7 linked regions of the Homo sapiens genome follow. The protein of the gene in region 1 purifies or fractionates together with the protein of each later gene. This does not show direct contact. Each region holds a gene or a part of one and is shown in the gene's direction. Other genes may lie near its edges.

The links.
Region 2: the proteins of CCNB2 (region 1) and SCML2 fractionate together in Homo sapiens (co-fractionation; one study listed by IntAct). This does not show direct contact.
Region 3: the proteins of CCNB2 (region 1) and PDS5A purify together in Homo sapiens (affinity purification with mass spectrometry; one large-scale study listed by BioGRID and IntAct). This does not show direct contact.
Region 4: the proteins of CCNB2 (region 1) and CDK17 purify together in Homo sapiens (affinity purification with mass spectrometry; one large-scale study listed by BioGRID and IntAct). This does not show direct contact.
Region 5: the proteins of CCNB2 (region 1) and VSIG1 purify together in Homo sapiens (co-immunoprecipitation; one large-scale study listed by IntAct). This does not show direct contact.
Region 6: the proteins of CCNB2 (region 1) and KRT73 purify together in Homo sapiens (affinity purification with mass spectrometry; one large-scale study listed by BioGRID and IntAct). This does not show direct contact.
Region 7: the proteins of CCNB2 (region 1) and DIAPH3 fractionate together in Homo sapiens (co-fractionation; one large-scale study listed by BioGRID). This does not show direct contact.

What each region holds. Positions count from the first base shown.
Region 1 is NC_000015.10:59,122,146-59,125,545, forward strand, and holds the end of CCNB2 (G2/mitotic-specific cyclin-B2), read left to right. Parts: intron 1-1,371; coding exon 1,372-1,482; intron 1,483-2,621; coding exon 2,622-2,732; 3' UTR 2,733-2,900; downstream 2,901-3,400. UniProt on the Homo sapiens protein: Essential for the control of the cell cycle at the G2/M (mitosis) transition.
Region 2 is NC_000023.11:18,344,689-18,348,188, reverse strand, and holds part of SCML2 (sex comb on midleg-like protein 2), read left to right. Parts: intron 1-3,500. UniProt on the Homo sapiens protein: Putative Polycomb group (PcG) protein. PcG proteins act by forming multiprotein complexes, which are required to maintain the transcriptionally repressive state of homeotic genes throughout development.
Region 3 is NC_000004.12:39,862,912-39,866,411, reverse strand, and holds part of PDS5A (sister chromatid cohesion protein PDS5 homolog A), read left to right. Parts: intron 1-2,952; coding exon 2,953-3,076; intron 3,077-3,338; coding exon 3,339-3,500. UniProt on the Homo sapiens protein: Probable regulator of sister chromatid cohesion in mitosis which may stabilize cohesin complex association with chromatin. May couple sister chromatid cohesion during mitosis to DNA replication.
Region 4 is NC_000012.12:96,292,440-96,295,939, reverse strand, and holds part of CDK17 (cyclin-dependent kinase 17), read left to right. Parts: intron 1-817; coding exon 818-941; intron 942-3,500. UniProt on the Homo sapiens protein: May play a role in terminally differentiated neurons. Has a Ser/Thr-phosphorylating activity for histone H1.
Region 5 is NC_000023.11:108,051,565-108,055,064, forward strand, and holds part of VSIG1 (V-set and immunoglobulin domain-containing protein 1 isoform 2 precursor), read left to right. Parts: intron 1-3,500.
Region 6 is NC_000012.12:52,615,760-52,620,059, reverse strand, and holds the start of KRT73 (keratin, type II cytoskeletal 73), read left to right. Parts: upstream 1-1,500; 5' UTR 1,501-1,535; coding exon 1,536-1,982; intron 1,983-3,679; coding exon 3,680-3,894; intron 3,895-4,300. UniProt on the Homo sapiens protein: Has a role in hair formation. Specific component of keratin intermediate filaments in the inner root sheath (IRS) of the hair follicle.
Region 7 is NC_000013.11:59,964,929-59,968,428, reverse strand, and holds part of DIAPH3 (protein diaphanous homolog 3), read left to right. Parts: intron 1-529; coding exon of another isoform or gene 530-597; exon of another isoform or gene 598-1,100; intron 1,101-2,894; coding exon of another isoform or gene 2,895-3,034; exon of another isoform or gene 3,035-3,500. UniProt on the Homo sapiens protein: Actin nucleation and elongation factor required for the assembly of F-actin structures, such as actin cables and stress fibers. Required for cytokinesis, stress fiber formation and transcriptional activation of the serum response factor.

The sequences.
Region 1 (3,400 bases):
TTTATTTTGCCAATTATACCATGCATATGAAAAAAACGTACTTTCGCTTTTAGAATTTTTGTCACAGAACTCTTAAATAAAGTCAGTTGACATATCTTTTTTTTTTTTTTTTTTTTTTTTTGAGACAGAGTCTTTCTCTGTCACCCAGACTGGAGTGCAGTGGTGCGATCTCAGCTCACTGCAGCCTCTGCCTCCCGGGTTCCAGCGATTCTCCTGCCTCAGGCGCACACCACCATGCCCGGGGAATTTATGTATTTTTAGTAGAGATGGGGTTTCACCATGTTGGTCAGGCTGGTCTCGAACTCCTGACCTCAGGTGATCCGCCCACCTCGGCCTCCCAAAGTGTTGGGATTACAGGCGTGAGCCACTGCGCCTGGCCTTTTTTTTTTTTCTTTTTTTTTCTTTTTTTTTTGAGACAGGGTCTCACTGTGTTGCCCAGGCTGGAGTGCAATGGCGTTAATATCGCTCATTACCTCAAACTTCTGGGCTCAAGCAATCCTTCCTCCTCAGCTCCTCAAGTAACTGGGACTATAGGTGTACACCACCAAGCTTGGCTAATTTTTCATTTTTCATAGAGATAGGGTCTCCCAATGTTACCCAAGCTGGTCTGAAACTCTTAAGCTCAAGCGATCTTCTTGCCTTGGCCTCCGAAAGTGCTGGGATTATAGGCGTGAGCCACTGTGCCCCGCCAATTTATATATCTTCTTACATGATACATCTTATTATCAATTGACAGCTGTTCTTTTACTTGAATTTTACTCTTTGGGAGGCTAGGTCACAAGGCTTGGTGTGGTAGTGTCTAAGTTCTCTCTGCTGTTTGGTGCTTAACTACACAGGGTTCAACAAGAGAATCATAGGTAGTCCTAGTTCTTCTGGATTTGATAGATTGTTGCTTGTAGCACAGTTTATTTCTTATTTCCGAACATCTTTCCCTGACTGACAGTATGTCTGTTTGGGCTCTTGAGCTCATAACAGGGACAGCTGGGCAGGGCTTTGATGCAGGGTTGTGTGAGATGTGGCCAGCACTGTAAAGGGGCACTTTGTTTTAAGTGTCTCCTTTTCCATCCCCTTTCAGTGTTGTTACTTGAAGGACTCTTACCTGTGCAACGTCTTTGAAAGATCGTATGGGACCTTTGGCACTTGATTTAGTCTGGTCTCAGGGCCAGAATCATCTTGCATTTACCAGCTGCTTTAGTGTTGCTGGTACTGTGAGAGTGGTTAGGGCTTTGATTGAATTTCCAGAAGGTAAGAATATTCTTGTACAGCTTTTACATAAGTAATGTCATCATGTACAAGATGTGTTCTTCTAAAGAAGCAGAGGTTTTCTCTTGCCCCTCAGTCATGTCTGTCTGTCTGCTTCTTGTGTTTCAGAACTTAAAGCAGCAGTATTACACAGGATACACAGAGAATGAAGTATTGGAAGTCATGCAGCACATGGCCAAGAATGTGGTGAAAGTAAATGAAAACTTAACTAAATTCATCGTAAGTACTACTGTTTTCTTAAGCTGTGGAAAGCTTTAGGTTCTGGGTTTTGTGTGTATGTTGGGCGGGGGGGGGCGGTGTGTGCCGTCATGTAAATATATTAATAACATGTGGGAGTTTTAGCACAAATCCTTTATCCTTTATATTTTTCTGGTACAGTATGGTATGGAGCATACTGATAAACCCTGAAAGCAAGCTTTATTTGAAACAAGGTCGATAGGCTAGCCATGTCCAGGCCCAGATCCCAGTCAACCAGTCGGTTACTCAATGTATTGAATTACTCTGTGCTTATACTAGCATCCTGGGGAGGGCACTTTGCAAGCAGGGAAGGCTGGTCTGCATGTGATTGGGAAGAGAGAGGGCCCACTTCAAATGGCGGTGTATTATATTGCGTATTCAGGTGATGTTACTCAGAGCCTTTGTCCAGGGTCTTTTGAGGCAATGATGGAAAAACGCCTAATTAGCAAGCATGGTTAAGAGGGAAGAGGCCCATTCAGGGGGCATCCTGAGGGCATGGTGTCTATCTCTGCATGGCCCACCTATGAGGAGGAGCCAAAGGAGACTTAGTGCTGTCCTGTGCTTGTGTGACACCAAACATCAGAGCTCACCAAGTGTGTGGTGGCAAAGAGCAAGGTATTTGAACCTCAGAAGAGTCTCAAGTGTCCTCACAACATGATTTGCTTCATGGAAGTGTAATATGTGTTCAGTCCTGAGAGGACTGTCTGGGATTTGTTAAGCACTAGTTGCCACCCTCTTTTATTGTCTTTTATTGTCTTTTAATTGTTCCTATTGCTGCCAGGCCTGGTGAACCTGTTATGTCCTGATGGCACTTAGGTGTCGTAAACACAGCTCCCCCTCCCATCCCTCTGGTAGCCTACAAGAGGAAGCCTGCTACTTGGACCTTGAAATCATTTGTTCCTATCACCTGTGCTACCAGCTGTGTTTTATTCATTAATGGGGATGGAAGGAAATGGTCAGGCACATGTTATGAGCCCAGAGCTTTCACTGGCTTCAGCGATTGGGCATCATCAATGTGATCATGATTGTAGCCGTGGACCTTTGATAATTGTGAGTTAGACTAGGAATAAGGTATCATTGGGGGTTCCTGACATGTGCTTAATCACAAATGACTTCTGCAGGCCATCAAGAATAAGTATGCAAGCAGCAAACTCCTGAAGATCAGCATGATCCCTCAGCTGAACTCAAAAGCCGTCAAAGACCTTGCCTCCCCACTGATAGGAAGGTCCTAGGCTGCCGTGGCCCCTGGGGATGTGTGCTTCATTGTGCCCTTTTTCTTATTGGTTTAGAACTCTTGATTTTGTACATAGTCCTCTGGTCTATCTCATGAAACCTCTTCTCAGACCAGTTTTCTAAACATATATTGAGGAAAAATAAAGCGATTGGTTTTTCTTAAGGTATCCCATGTGTATTTATTTGTGTATTCTGTACTTAAGAAATCAGTGAAAGCTTGCTTTGACTAATTTCTTTTTGAGCTGTTATGAATAGCATGTAAATTACTGCCATTATGGCTTGGGCAAGACCTTTTTACCATTTTCTCAAATGGAAAAAACTAGAACTTGGCCTCAGTGAACACTAAACCTATTCCTAAGCTTCTTGAATACAAATAAGTTTATTATGAAAATTTTAAATGGGAGGATAACCATGACACTTTCCTTTCTAGAAGCTAGTCAGCTGCTCTCTAATTCCTGCATAGGAACGCCTGGCCCAGAGCAACCCTTGTAATGGGTCCCTCTCTCAAATGCATTGTTGAGACCAGAGAGAGCCATCCCATGGGTCACAGCTGGAGAAAATGGGCCCGTGGCATCCTGTTCAAGGTGAAGCTTGGCATGCATTTTTTCAGGTACATTATGGGGTAAATGGCTTTGCATTTTTTTGTTTGGTTGGTTTTTAATGGGCA
Region 2 (3,500 bases), on another chromosome or scaffold:
GGGTAGCAGGTCTTTGGGCAGTTAGCCTGTAGCTGTGCTTTAAAACCTCAGGAATTTACAACTATAAACTGGGATTTTGGCAACCCTTGACTTATCTTTCGTTTATCTGTTTTCTGACATGACATACTTCTTCACTAAATACATAGCTTTCACATAAATCATTTTGAAATTGCAAGTGATTAACTTACAGGTTTTTTGGGGGGTAACTTAAATTAGAAATTTTTGAAAATAGTTAAGCCTTCTTAGGTTTGTTTTGACACAGAAAAAGATTAATTACTAATTTGTTGGGGTGGACTCTTTACTAAAGCATAATTTAAAATTGCTCCTTTAGAAACCTTAATTTCCTCAAGAAGGCTTGATTTGATAAATTATTGCTACCAAAAATGTTCTTTGATTTTTTTTTACAGATTTCAGAAATATGGAGATGAAAATGTTCTTTTTTTTTTTTTTTTTTTTTTTTTTTTTGAGACGGAGTCTTGCTCTGTCACCCAGGCTGGAGTGCAGTGGCATGATCTCGGTTCACTGCAGCCTCTGCCTCCCAGGTTCAAGCAATTTTCATGCCTCAGCCACCCGGGTAGGTGAGATTATAGGTGTGTACCACCGCAGACGGGGTTTTGCCATGTTGGCCAGGCTGGTCTCGAACTTCAGACCTCAAGTGATCTGCCCACCTCGTATTCCCAGAGTGCGGGGATTACAGGCATGAGCCCCTGCGCCCGGCCTAAAAATGTTCTTTTTTTTTTTTTGAAATGGAATTTTACTCTTGTCACTCAGGCTGGGGTGCAATGGCACTATCTTGGCTCACTGCAACCTCCCCCTCCCAGATTCAAGCGATTCTCCTGTCTCAGCCTGCCAGGTAGCTGGGACTACAGGTGCCCGCCACCACACCCGGCTAATTTTTGTATTTTTGGTAGAGACGGGGTTTTACCATGTTGGCCAGTCTGGTCTCAAACTCTTGACCTCAGGTGATTCACCCGCCTCAGCCTCCCAAAGTGCTGGGATTACAAGCTTGAGCCACCGCACCCGGCTTGTTCTTTCTTAATATTGATTAGTCTTAATTCAGAGATAGAATTTTAGTTTTAAATGTAATTACAGTATTAGAATTTAGTGTTTTTCTGATTACTTTTATAACTATGTCAGAAAATGTGACATTTGATTATTTACTTGAGTGAATTGAATAGATACTTGTGGAATCTTAATGTGATGACTCATGTTCAATTCCACAAAATTATGTATGGTTATACAATGGAATATACACTTTTTCTATCCTGTATTAGGATAATCACTATTACCAGAAACAAAATCTTAGTTGAAAGAGAGAGCTTCTCTTGGTCAAAGAAAAAATACATAACTACAGTGTATTTTAATTAAATCAGTATTTTTTTTTGCATTTAGGCATAAATGTGAAGTACTTCTTGAAACAAAATAATAAACTATTTACAAGTTAAAAACATAAAGGTGTTATTTTATGCAGTTAACTCAGACCTTCCCCTTCACAATAAAGGACAGCGTTTTTGTTTGTTCAAGTCTAAAAGTAGTGTCTTTATAACAAGATAGATTTTAAAAGGAAAAGAACCCTTTCTACCTGTGCTATTTAATTAATCTCTGGTAAATTGTGTATGTATAATAACTTCCGTCACTTATTCCAACATTTTCTTTAAAACACCAGCAAACGTATTTGTGAATCTCTCTTATCCTTGAAACTTCTTATGCTGTTGATAAACTCAAGGGGCTATGATGAAACATTTTTTTCAATAGATTATTTTGTGAATAGGGACTTGGCTTGTTGTTTCTTTTTTTGGTGAATATTGGTTTAAAGCACATGTTTTAGTTATACCTGTTATGTAGTTGGCATTTATAAACTGAATTCTATAATGGTAACTCATACGGAGCCTGACTTTTTGAGACCATGAACATCCTAGAAAGAGATAAAATTCAGAGTAAAAAAAAAAGGCCAATCAACTTCTGGGAAAGAGAGAGATATTGGAGGTGGGGGATTGTCTCAGATCTCACAGAATTTTCTCCTTGGCCCATTGACTTAGACTTGTGTGTAAATTAAGACAGCTGATTTGATATTGCAGGAAAGAACAGAGAACAACAATGATGGCCAAAAGAAAAATCTCGGCCGAGCGCCGTGGCTTACGTGAGCCTGTAATCCCGGCACTTTGGGAGGCTGAGGCAGGAGGATCATTTGAGCTCAGGAGTTTGAGACCAGTATGGGCAACTTAGTGAGCCATCGTCTCTACTAAAATTAAAAAAAAAAAAAAAATTAGTTGCTGAGCTTGTTGGCACATGCCTATAGTCCCAGCTACTTTGTGTGTGTGTGTGTCGGGGGTAGGGGGTGTGCAGGGGGTGTGCTGAGGCAGGACAATCACTTAAGGCCGGGAGGTCAGGCTGCAGTGAGCCCTGATTATGCCACTGAACTCCAGCCTGGGCAACAGAGTGAGACCCTGTCTCAAAACAAAGAATAAAAGAAAAATTTTATCAAAAAATTGTTTTAGTCCATGTGTGGTGGCTTACACCTCTAATTCCAGCACTTTGAGAGGCTGAGGCAAGAGGATTCATTGAGCCCAGGAGTTTGAGACCAGCCTGGGCAACATGGAAAAACTCTGTCACTACAAAAAATACAAAAATTAGCCAGGTATGGTGGTGTGTGCCTGTAGTCCCAGCTACTAGGGAGGGTGAGGTGGGAGGATCACCTGAGCCCGGGGAGGTTGAGGTTGTAGCGAGCTATGATCACTCCACTGCACTCCAGCCTGGGTGACAGAGAGACCCTGTTTCAAAAAAAAAATTGTTTTTAAAAACCACAGTATTCTGGTTCTATATAGTTTAGATACAAGCAGCCTATAGCACAGCAGAGTTTACTCATTCAGCAAACATTTTGGGGACCCTAGTATGTGATAGACACTGTGCTCGTTATTCTGAAGGATATAAAGAAGAACGAGATGTGATACTGCCCCCAGGAGCTTATTGTCTAGCACGGGAGAAAAGGCACTTACACAGTTAAACACAACAAAGGCAGTTTTAGCACAATGGTTAAGCATTCATGAACCTAGATTCAAACCTAGCTGGGTGATCTTGGGCAGGTCTTTGAGCCTCAATATCCTTAACTTTCAAATGAACATTAATGGACATTAATAACAGTATCTACTATGCAGGCTTGTAATAAGCTTTAGATAAGAAAAAATACATATATAAAAGCCTTAGGGTAGGGTACCAGGCATTCATTAATAGCAAGAGCTCAGTAAGTAACAGATCTGAGTAGTAGTATCACCACTGCCAACACCATTATCATTGAATCTCTGGGAACATAACTTTTGTTTTCTCCTGCCCTCATGGATCCGTTTTGTCTAGGGTATCTGGTATATTATAATATCTCCTTGTATTAGTCTGTTTTCACGCTGCCGATAAAGACATACCTGAAACTGGGCAATTTATAAGAAAAAGAGGTTTAATGGACTTACAGTTCTACCTAGCTAGGGAGGCCTCACAATCATGGTGAA
Region 3 (3,500 bases), on another chromosome or scaffold:
GGCGCGGTGGCCTATGCCTGTAATCCCAGCATTTTGGGAGGCCGAGACGGGCAGATCACGAGGTCAGGAGTTCAAGACCAGCCTGGCCAATATGGTGAAACCCCGTCTCTACTAAAACAAAAAACAAAAATTAGCCAGGCATGGTGGCACATGCCTGTAATCCCAGCTACTCAGGAGGCTGAGGCAGGAGAATCGCTTGAAACCAGAAGGCAGAGGTTGCAGTGAGCTGAGATCGTGCCACCGCACTCCAGCCTGGGCAACAGAGCGAGAGCCTGTCTCAAAATAAATAAATAAATAAAAATAAAAATTGCAATGGCAACTCAAGGGAGAGTTGAAGCCTTCTTGTTGTTCTACAGATTTGGGTGTGTACACTTGTATGTGCACACAGAGATTGTTTACATTGTTACACATTTTCACTTTTAATCTCTAAAATTGCCATCTCATTTTAAGATGAAAATAGAAGCTCAGTTTTTCATGATCCTGGTTTCTGTCAAATTCTTGATTTAGTAGGGGCCAAGATTACCAACATAGATAACTAAAGTATTCTACATATGATGCATTCCTTTTTAAAAATTTGTTTTAGAGGACAGAGGTTTAATCATTCTTTATGAGGCTGAGTGCAGTGGCTTACGCCTGTAATCCCAGCACTTTGGTAGGCCAAGTCAGGCAGATCAATTGAGGTCATGTTGAAACCCTGTCTCTACTAAAAATATAGAAATTTAGCCAGGTGTGGTGGTACGTGCCTATAATCCCAGCTACTGGGGAGGCTAAGGCATGAAAATCACTTGAACCCAGGAGGTGGAGGTTGCAGTGTGCCAAGATCACGCCATTGTACTCCAGCTTTGGCTAGTTATGTGGTACTGCTATGCTATTAATTTTTTTAAAAATTATTGTGATTAGGAATGGGATCTCACTATGTTGCCCAGGCTAGCTGGGCTCAAGCAATCCTCCTGCCTCAGCCTCCTGAGTAGTGGGACTATAGGTGTGCACCACTACGCTCTATTTTTATCATAGAATAAGCCAAAGGCAGCCTTTTATAACACTGTTTAGAGCTGAGTTAGGGATAATGAAAGCTTTAAATTGGGGGTAATTATGTACAGTACATGGCAAAGGCATAATAATGAGCTCTTACAAGTCAGTGATACCTAGGCAGGACCCCCAGTGGAGATGAAGTTTAGCTATTATCAGTTTACTTTTAAAAGTTTAACATCACTAAATGCAGTCAATACAATTTAAACTTAATCAATACCTCTTTTCATTACAAATCAGAAAGAAAAAAAAACGTTATAAGCAATCATTCCTCAGTATGATCATGGAAATGGGTTCCTTCATTACTCCTATGAGTATAAATTAGCAGGACTCTTTGGCATTTTGCATCTAGATCCTCAAAAATGTTATCCTTGACTCTTTATTTTTACACTCATAATTCATGAGTATAAAAGAATCATATGAAAGCTTATACACAAGCATGTTCCTCCAGCATTATTTTCCATCACAAAAAATAGGGGAATGGTTAACCATAGAATGAACACCCATTGGACAGATCCTAACTGGATATCATATAATATAGTATTACCTTTTGTAAGCCTCAATTTCCTCATCTTATGGAGTGAAAATTAATTGAGATAAAGCCTATAAAGTGTTTTTCACACCTGCCTGGCACGGAGTAAGCACTCACATAATAGCTATTAACTTTGATTCCTGAATGAATGCCATAGAAACCATTTGAGGCTCCCTCATTGTTACCAGTGCTCATTTTAACAATCCTGTTGTCCAAGAGTGCCAGGTTTTCTTCTCTCTATGCTTAGCAACAGTCCCAGTGGGTTCCGGCTAGCTTTCTGCATTTCGTAAAGTGGTCACAATAAATACAAAAGCCATGCTATGTTCCACATAGAAGTCGAAGTAGAAAGACTCCCATGCCATCCCATTCATTACCACATTTTACCACGTAAGTAATAAAAATCCACAGTGTCGGGGTGGGAGTGCCAAGGCTTCATAGGTTCCATTTGAAAACTTTACTCTGCAAAAGGAGATCAGCCCCAGGAACTAGTACCTAAGACAGACACTGGCCTCTTATATTTCATATCCTTTAGGTATTTGTCTGATACTTCTTCACTCTTAACTGCAGCCCTGCCATTTCAGCAGGCATTAAACTAGATTCCTGTTACATGTTTATATGCAGGAAATAGATTTTAAATGATGATAGGTGATTTTTTTTTTAATTCTTTGTGGTTTTTTTAATCAAGTTTTTTTGTTTTTTGTTTTTTGTTTTTTGTTTTTTTTGAGACAGAGTCTTACTCTGTTGCCAGGGTAGAGTGCAGTGGTGCGACCTTGGCTCACTGCAACCTCCACCTCTCAGGTTCAAGCAGTTCTCCTGCCTGAGTCTCCCAAGTAGCTGGGACTACAAGTGCGTGCCACCACACCCAGCTAATTTTTTGTATTTTTAGTAGAAACAGGGTTTCACCATGTTGGCCAGGATGGTCTCAATCTCTTGACCTCGTGATCCGTCCACCTCGGCCTCCCAATGTGCTGGGATTACAGGTGTGAGCCACCATGCCTGGCCACTTTAATCAAGTTTTCTACAATCAATATGTATTTCTCTTAAAATGAGGGATACAGCTCCTGATGTAAAGAGTTTTTCCTAGCCTTGCAATTACTATGGTTGCAAGAATAAGCAGAGTTTTTGGGTTGTGGTGAAGTATCTAAGCTAGAGTTTGACTAGAAATGAAGGCAGGTAAATTTGTAATCAGAAAGTCACAATGATTTGATTTGATTGTGAAAGTCACAATCCCCTGTGTTAAGTTCATGGACTCAAAGTAGCTTTCCCATATTTGTACGTCATTTTAAACATAAATTATGCTCTAAGGACCTTACATTCAAAAAGGGACGAAAGCATTTTTATGAATGATAGTGGTTATAGGAAATGTTTATTTCTTTTTTGTTTGTTTATAGTAAATCTGATATGTCTCGCTTGCGATTAGCTGCTGGTAGTGCCATAATGAAGCTTGCTCAGGAACCTTGTTACCATGAAATTATTACCCCAGAACAGTTTCAGCTCTGTGCACTTGTTATTAATGTAAGTAACAATCTTATTTTTGTCAATTACTTATCTTCAAAGTTGAATACATTACTTTTCTATGGATACAAATCCATTTATAATGTGAATATATGCACAAAAGTCACTACTATTATTACCTGTTTAACTGTCTTCCAATTATTACATTATTTATTCTCCCATATAATTATCTTCTTTTTAATTGAAGACACTAAAAATACTTAAACTGCTGTTTTTTATTTAATAAATGGTTGCCAATTTAAGTTTTTCTGTGCTGCTGTAGGATGAGTGTTACCAAGTAAGGCAGATATTTGCTCAGAAGCTGCATAAGGCACTTGTGAAGTTACTGCTCCCATTGGAGTATATGGCGATCTTTGCCTTGTGTGCCAAAGATCCTGTGAAGGAGAGAAGAGCACACGCACGACAATGTTTACTGAAAAATATC
Region 4 (3,500 bases), on another chromosome or scaffold:
AGGGGAAACTCTTGAATCCTCTGTACTTGAGGTTCTTTTTGTTAACCCCAGAGAATCAAAGGTCTTATGTGTTCCGTAACCCTCTTTCTACCAAAATGTACAGCAAAAACTCTACCATTAGCCTTATAGGAATTACTTTTTTCAGAGTCATTCAGAACACTACGGTGCTAATGCCCCTTTGTGAATCACAGTAGATTTTGAAGGCTAAGTAGGAGGTGCTGAAAGTAAAGTACCCAAGAGATGGGTGATAGAAGCTGGTTTAGGTTAGTTTTATAGTAAGTAATTTGCCAGAGCTATGCAGCAGCTTTCTCTTTGATACCTCAGACTTTTCATAAAATCGCCAATTCCAGTGCCTTATTTTAAAGACACTGCCCCAGATCAGAGTTTTTGTTTTTGTTTTTTTTCAAGGAGAGATGGGTGGGAGGGGGGTTGGTTGGTTGTTTTGCCAGAATTTTATAATTAAACTATGTAAACCTTAGTAGGCCTGTAAGTTTATGAGGATATGTTTTTTTTTTTAAGTCATTTTCCACAGTAAATCAACTGTTACTGCTAGGAGGAAGTTACTTTTTAAAAAATATTTCCATAGATACTGTTAGACTAAAAGAAATAGGTAGATGCTTCAAATAGAATAATAAACTATTAAATTCAGAAAGCCACTATATATAAAAGGAAAAAGACATTGTACTTAAGTATGCAATTACTTTCTTTTTCCTGTTACAATGTTCTAGGCCAGCTGCTTTTCTGCTTACCATCATTTATGCTTATACTAAAGCATGTCTCATCTTTAAGACTAATTTTTATTTATTTGTTTCTGTAGCTGTTTCTGTACCAAATTCTACGTGGTTTGGCATATTGCCATAGAAGAAAGGTATTGCATCGAGACTTGAAACCACAGAACCTCCTCATTAATGAGAAAGGAGAATTAAAGCTAGCAGATTTTGGTATGGAATGTATGAGATATTTATTAGTACTTCCAGGTTCTAAAGTGTAATGGTTAAAAGATCAACCACTGTCATAATGTGCCATTGCTTTTATGTGGGTTTGGAAATTTTCTCGGTAGCCCACAGAATAAGATATTTGACAGAACTTTGGTTGGTGATTTATGTTGGTTATTAGCAGCAAATTCTAAAATGCACAGGCTGTTCTTGGGTGTGGACAAAGACCCCTAGGGCTCCTGAGACCCTTGTAGGAGGCCTCTAAATGTAAATATATTACCAAAATTGTACCATCTGTTATTTGCCTATTTCACTGTGTTAATATTTGCAATGATGGTCCCAAAATAATAATGCATAAAACTATACATCAAAGTAGTGGCACCAAAATATATCTTTTTTTTTTTTTTTTTTTTTTTTTTTGAAGACAGCATTTTGCTGTTAAAGCCCAGGCTGGAGTGCAGTGGTGTGATCTTGACTCACTGCAACCTCTGCCTCCCAGGTTCAAGTGACTCTCCTGCCTCAGCCTCCCAAGTAGCTGGGATTACAGGCATGCGCCACCATGCCTGGCTAATTTTGTATTTTTAGCGTGACCACCATGTTGGTCAGGCTGATCTCGAACTCCTGACCTCAGGTGGTCCACTCGCCTCGGCCTCCCAAAGTGCTGAGATTACAGGCATGAGCCACCATGCCCAGGCCGTCATTGTATTCTTTACCACTACACTTACGTAAAGGGAAAACTGTCAGTTACACTTACATGATGAAGCAATAAAATTTATTAATTATATTTAATTTCCATCCTTGACTACATTTCTTTTTAATATTTTATGTGATAAAATGGGAAGTGTACATAAAACTCATTTGCTGCACACAGAAATAATGTGGTTACTTCTCAGGGAAAAGTGCTCATGTGATTATTTGAGTGCACATTGAACTAGCCCTGTTATTTGAGGGGACACCATTTTTACTTAAATGACTGACAGACAAACTGTGGTTATTCAGACTTAGGTGTTTGGCAGACATTTTCCTGAAAGTGAATGAAGGAAGCCTATCATTTCAAGGAAAAGAACTGTCAGTATTTCTTGCCAATAATAAAATTCAAGTTTTCAAGCAAAAATTAGAGTTTGGAAATTTGGATCTGCTTTGAGTTTGATGGCTTTTCAATACTTAGAGACTTTTCTGATGAGATCGATGTTGATGTTAACAAACACGATTTTTCAATATGCTGAAAAAGTGTATAAACATTTGGAATGTATAACCCAGGGATCCACTGTTTTCCAAATGGCTAATGCATGATATTACAGAATCATGCATGGATAAAAGACCCATTTAAAGTACAAGGTCAATGAATTTTAGTGCAACAAAAGCATGAGAAGTTCATCGTTATAGGTTTTGTTAACACATAGCTTTTAAGAGACCACTTACTTTCTAGTTCTGATGTAGTGTCAAATAAGACTATTCACATTTATCAGAAAAGGCTATTAAAATGCCCCTCCTCTTTCAACCTCATATCTGTGTGAGATTTGATTTCCTTCATATATGTATGTTGTGATATGTATATTTGATCTATTTTGATACATATTGTGATATGTATCAAAGCAACATATCACGACACACAGAATGCAAAAACAGATGTGGAATCCAGTTGTCTTCTATTGAAATAGACTTTAGGCCAGACACAGTGGCTCAGGGGTGTAATCCCAGCACTTATGAGGCTGAGGTGAGAGGATCACTTGAAGCCGGGAGTTTAAGACCAGCCTGGGCAACATAGCAAGACCCCATCTCTACAAAAACAAGACTTAAAAGAGATTTACAAAAATGTGAAAGAAGGCCATTCTTCTTACTGTTTTGTTTTTATAAAAAAAATGTTTTTCATAAAAATGTCATACATGCTGCATATAAAGGGTGGTGTTTTTAAAGAGAAAATAATATTTTAAAATTTGCTAAGTTTTAATTTCTAATGTGGCAAATATCAGTAAATATATCCACAAAAATAAAAGCTCTTTAGGTCTTTGATAATTTTCAAGAGTATAAAATGGGTCTTGAGAACAATGAGTTTAGAAGCAACTACTGAAAGGCGTTCCCTTAATATACCTGCCACCATTACTCTGTATTTATTATATGCTCAGTAATTTAATTGTAGCTATTTATCTATTTTTTTTTTAGCTAATCTGGTTTTAAGGGAATTGAAAGTAAAATTAAATGCTCTTTTTGCTTCTAGAAAGTAAACTTTTTCATATTGAAGGAACTTTGTAGAGCAGCTTTGAATTTTTTGTATTCCGCATTCTGAGAGTTTGAATACTCTTAGAGAACTTAGTTTTTAAAAACCCATGCAGTTTTCCATAACTAAATTCATAATTTTTTTTCATAAATGATTATGGTAGTTTTTTGGTTGTTTGTTTTGAGACAGGGTCTTGCTCTGTCACCCTGGCTGAAGTCTAGTGGTGCAATCTCAGCTCACTACAACCTTCGCCTTCTGGGTTCAAGCGATTCTGGTGCCTCAGCCTCCCAAATAGCTGCAATTACAGGGGTGCCCACCACGCCCAGCTAATTTTTGTATTTTTAGTA
Region 5 (3,500 bases), on another chromosome or scaffold:
AACATAGTAGACAAAATGTTCAATCAAAAATCATCTGTCATACCAAGAATCAAGTAAATCACAACTTGACTGAGAAAAGGCAACTACTGCCAACATTAAGATGAGTTCGATGTTGGAATTATCTGACAAGGATTTCAAAGTAGCCATCATAAAAATGCCTCAACAATCAATTAACATTATCTTAAAACAAATAAAGAAAAAAAAGGAAACTTGCAGAAAAGAAAAAGAAGTTATAAAAATATAAGAAAGAAGGAAATTCTGTCATTTGCTACAGCATGAATGAACCTGGGGGACATTATGCTAAGTGAAGCAAGCCAGACACAGAAAGACAAACACCACATAATCTCACTTATATGTGAGATCTAAAAGAGTTGAACTCAGAATTAGAGTAGAATGGTTACCAGGGACTGTGGCTTGGAGGGAGTGGGAAATGGGGAGAAGTTGACCAAAGGGTACAAAGTTCCAGTTAGACAAGAGGAATAAGTTTTTAAGACCTATTTTGCAGCATGCTCACCATAGTTGATAATAATGTATGTGCATTTCAAAACTGCTAAAAGCATAAGATTTTAGTCTACACATTGGGTACAGTGTACACTGTTCGGGTAATGGGGGCACCAAAATCTCAGAAATCACCACTAATGAACTTATCCACGTAACCAAACATCACCTGTTCCCCAAAAAAGTATTCAAAAAAATAATAGATTTTAAATGTTCCTGCTATGAAAAAAACAAAACGAAACAAAAGATAGGTAGGCCAGATGTGGTGGCTCATGCCTGTAATCCCGCCACTTTGGGAGGCCAAGGAAGGTGGATCACTTGAGCTCAGGATTTCGAGAAGAGCCTGGGCCACGTGGTGAAACCCTATTTCTACCAAAAATACACACACACACACACACACAAAATTAGCTGGGCATGGTGGCATGTGCCTGTGGTCCTAGCTACTCGGGATGCTGAGATGGGAGAATTGCTTAAGCCTGGGAGGCAGAGGTTGCCGTGAGCCGAGATCACACTACTGCACTCCAACCTGGGTGACAGAGTGAGACCCTGTCTGAAAACAAAACAAAACAGAACAAAAAACAAAAAAAAGGATAAATTACGTGAGGTGATGGATATGTTAATTAGCTCGATGTAATTATTCCACAGTGTATGCATATATTAAAATATCACATTGTATCCCATAAATATATGCAATAATTATTTGTTAATTAATTAAAATAAAAATTAAGTTAAAAACAAGAATTTAAAAAATACATACTTTGCAATTATCTACTATTTTTCTAAAGACCCTTACAATCTATAGGCTCTTTCTCAGTTTTCTTTTTTCCCCCTTGGAATTATTTTTTGAATAAAACTGGCTTGTTTGTCCCCTCCCCCCAAAAAACAAATATAAATTATAGAACTGTAAAATAAAATAACAAAAATGAAAAACTGGCTGATGGACTCAATAGAAGAGCAGAGATGACAGAAAATAGAATCCATATCTGGTGAAACTATCCTTCAGGAATTAAGGGGAAATAATTAAATTCTCAGTTGAAGGAAAACAAAAAGATTTGTTGCTAGCAGACATACTGTTAAAAAATAGCTAAAGGGATTTCTTCAAACAGAGAATAAATGATAAAGAGCAATCAGGAAGGATGAAAGGACAACAGAAAGAGCAGAAATGTAAGTACATAAAGTAGACTATCTTTTAACTCATGAGTTCTATAAATCATATTTGATAATTGAAGCAAAATTATAACACCATTTTATACTCTAGACAATGATATTTAAAAGTGGGGAAGGTAAAGGAAACTAAATGGAAGTGAGGTTTATACACTTCAATCAAAGTGGTAAAATATTGATATGAGTAGACTGTTATGACTCACACATGAATGTTGAATACCCAGAGAAACCACTGGGAAAACTCTACAAAGATATATATTTTAAAACACTATGAATAAGTCAAGATGGAATCATAAAAAATGCTCAAGTAACTATCAGAAAAGCAAGAAAAGGGAAACAGAAGAATAAGAACTAAAGGGAACAAACAAAAAACAAATAATAAAATAGCAAACAAGAATAATATATCAATAATTACATTAAATAATTATATTGAATGCGAATACCACTACAGTAGTCCCCTTTTATCTGTGGTTTTACTTTCTGAGGTTTCAGTTACCCATAGTACAGTATAATAAGATATTTTGTGAGAAAGAGTGTGAGTGTGTGAACACAATCACATAATTTTTACTCCAGTACATTGGTATAATTGTTCTATTTATTAGTAGTTATCATTGTTAATCTCTTACTGTGCCTAATTTATAAATTAAACTTTATCATAGGTTTGTGTGTATGGGGGAAAAATATATATAGTATACATAGAGTTCAGTACTATCCATGGTTTCAGGCATCCACTGGGGGTCTTGGAATATATCTCCCTGGAATAAGGGGGAACTACTCTATATGCTATTCACAAGAAACTCACATTAAATTTGATGACATAGGAAGATTGCAAGTAAAAATATAGAAAAAGATGTACCACATAAGTATTAATTTTTCAAAAATCTGGAGAAGCTTCATTAATATCTGATAAAATAGTCTTCAGAGCAAAGAAAGTTAAAAGAGATAAACAGAGACATTACCTAATGATAAATGGATCAATCCAGCAGGAGGATACAATGATCCTTAATGGGTACACACCAAACAACTATGTCTCAAAATTCATGAACAAAAACTGATCAAGCTAAAAGAAGAAAGAGACAAATCCACAATTATAGTTGGGAAATTCAATACCCCCTCTCAGAAATTGATAAATCTACTAGACAGAACATCAGTAAATATAGGGAAGATCTGAAAAAGACAGTCAATTAACAGGATCCAGTTGAATATTTTTACGATTTTATATTGGTTTTTCCATAGTGGTTTTAAATTATATCTCTTTGTATAGAAAACTCCACCCAACAACAGCAGAACACACTTTTTTTTGGCACCTACAGAACATTCACCAAGATAGATAATGTGCTTGGCCGTAAAACAAACCTAAACAAATTTAAAATAATTGAAATCATACAGAGTATATTCTCTGACTACAATGCAATGAAACTAGAAATCTGTAGCAGAAAAGTATCTAAACACGTGGAAATTAAACAACACTGTTCTAAATAATCCGTGGATCAAAGAGGAAATCTCAAAAGGAATTTTTTTAAAAATGCGTAGAACTGAATGCAAATGAAAACACAACATATTGAAATATGTACCATGTAGATAAAGCAATTCTGAGAGAGAAATTTCTAACACTAAATGTTTACATTGGAAATAAAGGAAGGTCTTAAGTCAATAACCTAAATTTCTACATCAAGGATCTAGAAAAGAAGACCAAAATAAACCCAAAGCAAGCAGAAGGAAGGGAATAATAAAGAGCTGAAATCAATGAATTTGAAATAGAAAAACTATAGGGAAAAATTAATAACACAAAAATTTGCTTTTCTGAAAAAAAAATCAGTAAAACTGACAAACTTCTA
Region 6 (4,300 bases), on another chromosome or scaffold:
CAAGTGGCATTGCCTTTAGTGAAATTGAAGACATCAAAGAAAATGATTATTCTTAACTAGAAAACAACCATATTGTATAAAACAGAGGGGAGGTTGAATTTGGCAATTGCTTAGTACAACAATTTTAGAGGCATATCATAACCTCTATACAGAAATAGAAAAGAAGGATGGGCCAACTGTTCATTCAAGTACTCCAGCTAGTGAAATACTTGTGTTTTTATGGAGGAAATTCTATACTATGGATATATTTGGGATTTGGGATTTGGGAAACTCTTGGGTCACATACTTTGGCAATGTCAAGGATCCATGAAATTCAAATGTCTTCCCCTACCTCCCCATCTCCAAAATTGTGAGCTAGGTTTGGTCTTCATAATTCGGGACCCAAGAGCCTAGCACAGTACCTGGGAGAGAGTCAGCCCTCAAGAGAAGTCTGTTAAACGAATGGATAAATGAATGAACAAGTAGATGGCTGGCTGGCTGGTTGGACGGATAGATGGACGAATGAATAAGGCGGGCATAGCTCTGAATGTGGAGTCAGAAGACCAGCCAAGGGAGTCCTCAAGGCTGGGGCCTGTGCTTTTTGGGGGCATTTTCATTCTCTGGGATTCACACAAAGAAAGGACTCACTAAATGTTTGCTAAAGGAATGACATCCTCAATTATCTGAACCTTGGTTTCCCCATTTGTGTAATGTGGATCATCACCATTCCCCTCCATGCAGACTAAGTGGATTAAATGAGCTTCTTGTGTGAGGAGCTCTGTTACACTGTAAAGTGCTGCACCAGTGTCAGCCATCGTGAATGGTGCAATGACCATAATTTCAAGGTCAAGAGTCAGGGTAGTGGGATGGTAAAGGGAAAAAGAAGTCAGTGTGTGCAAAGGAAGGTGAGCAGGGCAGCCCGGCTGGCACAGAGGAGCAGGAGAGCTGCCTGGGAGGGCACAGCAGGGGGCTGGCAGCCAGAGGCTGGTCCTGGATTCCCAGTGTGCTCCTCTCCTATGGCCCTGGCCAGCCATCAAACCTGTCTCCAGGAACTCTGGGAAGCCAGGCAGCAGCAGCCTCTTCTTAACCACATAAAAGCAGCTCAGCCAGGGTCCCTGAAGCAGCCCATCTGATGCTGGCATGGTTGTGAGATTTCTAACAGATGACACTGTCAATTAAAGGTCTCCCCTCTGTACCCCTACAATCCCAGGCCCCACCACTCCCTGGGGAACAGCAATTGAGACTGCGACAAACCTCCCACCTAAGATCTTTCTATGGATAATGTGCCCATGCTAATTACACATGTTCATTAGATAAAACTCAAATTACATGAGCAAGACTTGCAAGACTAGCACTTTGGGAGTTTTCAAGTCATTTACCTGGTGTCTGATTTTGCTGGGAGAAAATGATTTCTTGCTTCCAGGCAAACTGAACCCACAAATTAGGCCCATGGCTCCCTCTTGAGTCCTATAAAGTGGGAGCCCAGGATCACAGGCTGGTGAACTGCATCTCAGCTAAGGGTCAGCATCTTATCCCCACTTTCTGGCCTCCCCACCATGAGCCGCCAATTCACCTACAAGTCGGGAGCTGCTGCCAAGGGGGGCTTCAGCGGCTGCTCCGCTGTGCTCTCAGGGGGCAGCTCATCCTCCTACCGAGCAGGGGGCAAAGGGCTCAGTGGAGGCTTCAGCAGTCGGAGCCTTTACAGCCTGGGGGGTGCCCGGAGCATCTCTTTCAATGTGGCCAGTGGCAGTGGGTGGGCAGGAGGCTATGGATTTGGCCGGGGCCGGGCCAGTGGCTTTGCTGGCAGCATGTTTGGCAGTGTGGCCTTGGGGTCCGTGTGTCCGTCGTTGTGCCCGCCCGGGGGTATCCATCAGGTCACCATCAACAAGAGCCTCCTGGCACCCCTGAACGTGGAGCTGGACCCTGAAATCCAGAAAGTGCGTGCCCAGGAGCGGGAGCAGATCAAGGTGCTGAACAACAAGTTCGCCTCCTTCATTGACAAGGTGGGTCTTTCTGGAGAAAGCTGATCTTGGGCTCCCCTTTTAAGGACTCAGGAGGGAGCCACTGCCCTAATTTGTGGTTCAATTTGCCTGAGAGCAAGAAATCATTTTCTCCCAGCAAAATCAGACACCAGGTAAACAACTTGAAAGCTCCCCAGGTGCTGGGCCCATAAGGCTTGCTCATGCCGTAGAGCCCCTTCCTTCCCCCGCCTTCATTGTCCTTGGGGTGCTCCCTGTCTGAAGCAGACGAAGGCAGGACACCTCCCCAGGATGCAGACATAGCCCAGGGAGGAACTGGACAAAGCCTGGACATCAGAGGCAAGGGACCAGGGTTGGAGGGGTGAGAGGAGCCAGCAGCCTAGCCCAGGAAGGTGTCCAGGAAGCAATGAGAGCGGTCTCTGAGTTGAGAAGTAGCAGAGTGACAGCCTGTGAGACTTAGAAGCTAGGCGAAGGAGATGCCCTTGACAGCCTGGGGCATCTAGACTGCCATGCGACCCAGCTGTTCCTCCTGTGTCCCCTGAAAGCTCAGACTCAGTCCGTAACACACACAGCCTATGAGGCAAGGCAGCTGGAGGTCACGGTGCCCTAGAGCAGTGGTTCTCAAAGGTGGCCCTGGAACCAGCAGCAGCAACGTCACCTGGACGCTTGTTAGAATGCACACTCTCAGGCTCCACCCCAGAGCAACTGAATCAGAGACTCTGCAGCAGGGCCCAGCACCCTGCATTTTAACAAGCTCTCCAGGTGATGCTGATGTACACTCAGGTTTGAGAATCACTGAGGAACAAAGTGGTAGGAAGGTATTGGGAAGCAGAGACTTCCTAAGCTTAGAGGAGCAGGGGAAGCTCACCCGGAGCGACAGTGAGGTAGGGTGGTGAGGCATGAGTAGGAGTTTTCAGATGGAGGTGGGGAAAAGGCAATCTAGGGAGACAGCACGTGCAGCATGGTAGAACTTGTCTGGGGAATGGGAGACCTTCGGTTTACGACATCACTGTATGAGTAAAGAAGGAAGCCAGGAGGGCTGGGCACATTATGAAGAGTGTGATAAGGAATATGGACTTGACCCTGAGGGTGATGTGGAACCACCTGAGGGTTTTAAGCAAGGGAATGATATATTTGTAGGTTGCAACTTGAGAATGCTTGTTCTGCTGCTGGGACAATGCTGTGATTGAGATAGTAGAGATTCAGACATGAAAGCAACTTAGGAGGGCCGGAGACCCCAGATAAGCTGAACATCTGCCTCTGGCTGGGCTGGGAGAGCCCACGCACAAGGAGGGAGAGACTAGGCAGAGCACGGGCCACCAGACCCCGAGCAGAAGGCCTGACAGTGTGAAGGCTAGCACAGGCCAGCTTGTGTCTAAGGGGCTGCCTTGGAGAGGTGGCCTGGACTGAACATGGACATCGGTCCAGGCAGGTTTGGATAAGTGCAGAGGAGACAGGAGATCTAGATCTTGATAGTTTGAGAGGGAAATGAAGACATTGGTGCCCCTCCCAACCTTAAGGGCTGCCTCAGAGTGAGAACTTCAGTCAGATAAAGGACCCTAGGTAAGGAGTGGGGGTGTGAGTGGCATGGGTGGCAGTTTTTAAGGGCTGAGGCTCATTTTTAAAGCTAATGTAGCATAAGAAAACACAGTTCCTGTCCAGGAAGGGAATTCTCACATCCCCTCTCCACATTGCTTAAGTATGTGTGGCATGGGTTCCAGGTGCGGTTCCTGGAGCAGCAGAACCAGGTGCTGGAGACCAAGTGGGAGCTGCTACAGCAGCTGGACCTGAACAACTGCAAGAATAACCTGGAGCCCATCCTTGAGGGCTACATCAGCAACCTGCGGAAGCAGCTGGAGACGCTGTCTGGGGACAGGGTGAGGCTGGACTCGGAGCTGAGGAGCGTGCGCGAAGTGGTGGAGGACTACAAGAAGAGGTGAGCAGGACGCCACTCCAGGCTGGTCTGCCTCCCAGGGTGAGGCTTTCCCAGCAGGCACTGGGATGTTTGCCTCTGGCCTTGGAGGTATTGGGTTCATCTGTCCCAGCAAGATGAGAGCCTTCTATGGGCAACGAGGCAGACTAGACAGTGGACAACCAGCCTCTTGGGCAGCGTCAGGGCTGTCCTGGCAGGTGATCCCCTCCTTGGCATGCTCCTTCCTGCTCCCTGTTCAAGGGAGCCTGTATTGTGTGTGCCGCAGCCTCTTGGCTCCTAAGCTCACCACTGTGCCCCTGAGTTCCAAAGAACCACCCCCCACCCACCCGCTGCTCTCTGCCACAGGGAAGGAGGTGGAGTTCCTGTTGGGCTTCCTCTCTCATTGCCTTTCGGTCCTGGACACGGGCCA
Region 7 (3,500 bases), on another chromosome or scaffold:
GGCAGTTAAAATTTGTGTTTACATGTAAAACACTTCAGAATTTCAGATTTCATAATCTGGAGTTGATTAGTTTTCCTTTTGCTTTCCTAGTAGGTACAAATGGTGGTACCTAAAAACTATTTAAGTAATTCTGCCATACAGCTACTCTCTTTTTCTCCTTACTCTGATTACTTTCTTAATTAATGAGGCTCAAAAGGGAAACTTGTTAGCATGTCTTTAATTTAGCTGCAATGTTAGCCCTAAATGAAATAATTGGACCTTTAAAAAATTCTTAAGTCATCTAACTTTAGCCTTGAGATTCAAGGTTGAATAAAAAAATGATGTATTTGCTCTATCTAATACTAGTTAGAAAGATTAAGGTGAAAAGGTGATCATTTTTTGCATACTCCATATTTCCATCTCTCTCTGCCTTTGTACTGCTGGTCCTTTGGCCTGGAATCTCTTTACTTGACTTAGAGGCTGGCAGAGGACTATGATACCTTCTGTCTCAATTCAACTCAAATGCTGCTTTCTTTTTTTTCTGTGACAGTAGATGACATTTCCAGGGGGAACACAAAGAGTGGGGAAGCCCAGGGTTGTGACTCCGAGCCCTGCTAACATTTCTCAGTGGTAAGCAGAGATGAGCTGTAAAGGTGACTATTTTTTTGGGACTTCATTTTAAAGAATAATTCCTAGAAAGCATTATTTGAGGAGTCCTAAGAGTGCTTTTTGGCATTACTGGTCATCTGGCAATCAAGGAGAATATATGACAATTAAAATGTGTATTTACATGTAAAACACTTCAGAGTATTTTATAGGAAAGGCCAGTCATTGCTACGTTCAGAGAAACAGGATTTTATATAGACATTTAATAGGAAAGATCAGAAAGGAAGGAAAGAGAAAGATGTCCAGAGAGCTTAGACAGGACTGGTCAAGTAGACAGGTCTACTTGTGGTCTTTTATTCATGGCCTGGCTGCTGAGGCATTGGGTCCAAATGTTACATTCACGTATCTCCCTGAGTCCAACATACTTTGTTTGAATCAATTTTGTAATTGCTGCAGAATTCAAAACTATGGCCGGGTGCAATGGCTCCCGCCTGTAATCTCAGCATTTTGGGAGGTCGAGGTGGGTTGATCACTTGAGGCCAGGAGTTTGAGACCAGCCTGGCCAACATGATGAGACCCTCATTTCTACTAAAAAAAATTAAAAAAAAAAATAGCCAGGCATGGTGGTGCACACCTGTAGTCCCAGCTACTCCGGAGGCTGAGGCATGAGAATCGCTTGAACCTGGGAGGCAGAGGTTGCAGCGAGCCAGGATCACGCCACTGCACTCCAGTCTGGGCAACAGAGTAAGACTATGTCTCAAAAAAACACAAAAAAACAAAAAAACAAAAACAGGCAAACCCCCAAACAAAAGTAAACCTGGTCACTTATGTATTGTTCACTCCAAGGTGAAAATCCATTTGTCTTTCCACCCTTTCGCAAGCCAGTGCAGGAGGTAGAGGCATTGGCTGCTGGCTGATTTTCATCACAACTAGGTAGGGAAGGATGGTAATTACTGAAGAATAGTGGGTTTTTTAGAGAAATGGTGTATCTCTGTTTTTCATTGCAGTAGTAACTGTTTGGACTGAGAACCGAGGCTATTTCTTTGATTACAAAGATGGACATTCCATCCCAGGCATTTAAATGATAGATGCCAATCCTTTGTGCTTCCCAAGCATTCAAATTGGGTAGTAAGAACAAAGGAACTGAATCCAATCATTTAAAGAGATCCTTGAAGTTTTCTGTCATGTAGACTTTATTTGTTGTCAAGTAAGTGGGGCTTTTTTCTTATGGTAGACACTACTTTAGGTTTTCAGGACTTCTAATGTTTAGACTACTGGGATTTACAGGTCTAATACACTTAGAGTTGGAAAAGGAGCTAATATCTATATCAGATATTGTGCATACGTGATATATCAGTGCCTCAGCTGGGTTCTCTTCATATTATCTTGTTTAATCTTTAGTGTATCTCAGCTGAGATCTTTTCTCCTGGTCTCCTGATGGCAAAACAATTCTGGCTTCTTGTGATACTATCCAACCCTACCTACATTTACATATTACCAAGATATTCTTGGTAAGGGCTTGGCTCTTTCCTCTTAATTCCTGTTGCCTTTTATTACATTCCTACTTTTTTTTTTCCAATTAGATCTTACCTATTCTGCTTTTTAAACTAATCTTTGTGACCATTTACAACAACGCTTCTGTGGGAAAGTACCTTGTGCCATATCTGTAGAGGAATAGGAATCCTCTCTAATCCTTTTCCTGTGAAAAATCAGTAATTTTTTCCTGATTCACTTACATCATTTTCTTTTACACTTTATTTTGCTGTTAAGTAGCTCACTTCAGTTTTCTTGATTCTCTCTGTTGTAAGTTTTTGGGAGACATCTTAGCTTTCTGTATTTTAAATTATTCTGGAAATGTATATAAGCACTTTTCCAGATTATGTTTTTTCTTTTTCTCATACCTCCTCTTTCATACCTTCCACTTTTTCTTATTGGCTACCACTGTTCCACTCAATAACTATTTATTGGGTGCATATTGCATGTTGTGCCTCATGCTTGACATTGGGGATACCAGCATGAATAAGGCAGGTGTGCTTCCCATACTCATGTTGCTTTTACATTCCTGATGAAACTCAGTCAAGTACTTAGTTGAAGCATAATAACAAGGAGTGGAATAACAAATGCTGATTTTGATTTTAGAAAAGACTGACATTTTACTAAATTCAGCTTCTGTTAAGACTTAACAAGGTTATAAAAAAAGATTGTTTATCTATCTCTCTGAAATTTAATCATAATATTCATATATTGAACATTTGGTATCATCAAAATAATGCTAATGACCTATGTATTTTTTTTTTTTTTTTTACCAGATTGGAAGCATCTGTTGGTTAATTTTTACAGGCTGTTGGAAAATGGATTAGAGTATACTAACAGGTTATTGGTGTTGGATTTGTCAAGTAAAATTAATATTAACTACTTTCATTATTCACAAACTGTTAATAGGGATTAAAGGGCTTTCTGAAAGTATATGAATAGTCTAATTCACTTAGACTAATTTATTATGAAAATGTGGTTCCACAATTGTTAGCTTTCTGAAGTAATCATATTTTATAACAGGTGTGTCATTTTTGCCAGATAGGGCCCATAAATTGGTTTATAAATTATTTCTCAACTGAATAGTTATGGCATATGGAAACAGTTAATGGATTATCCACTTAAAAACAAATCAAGCTTAGATTTCTGACATCATAGTTCAGTGGACAAAGAATTGAGGAAGTAGGTGATAAACGTGGATTATCCCAGCAACTTGGCGGTGTTCAAGATGTTGCATTGTGTTTGAAACATAATTTATTCCTCTATACAAACAAATGTGTATAAAATTTTTTAAACTACCTCACAAGGCTACATTAAGGTGAACACATAGAAATATGTTTTTTTGTAATGCATGCTAATAAAGAGATGATGCCAAAATAAAT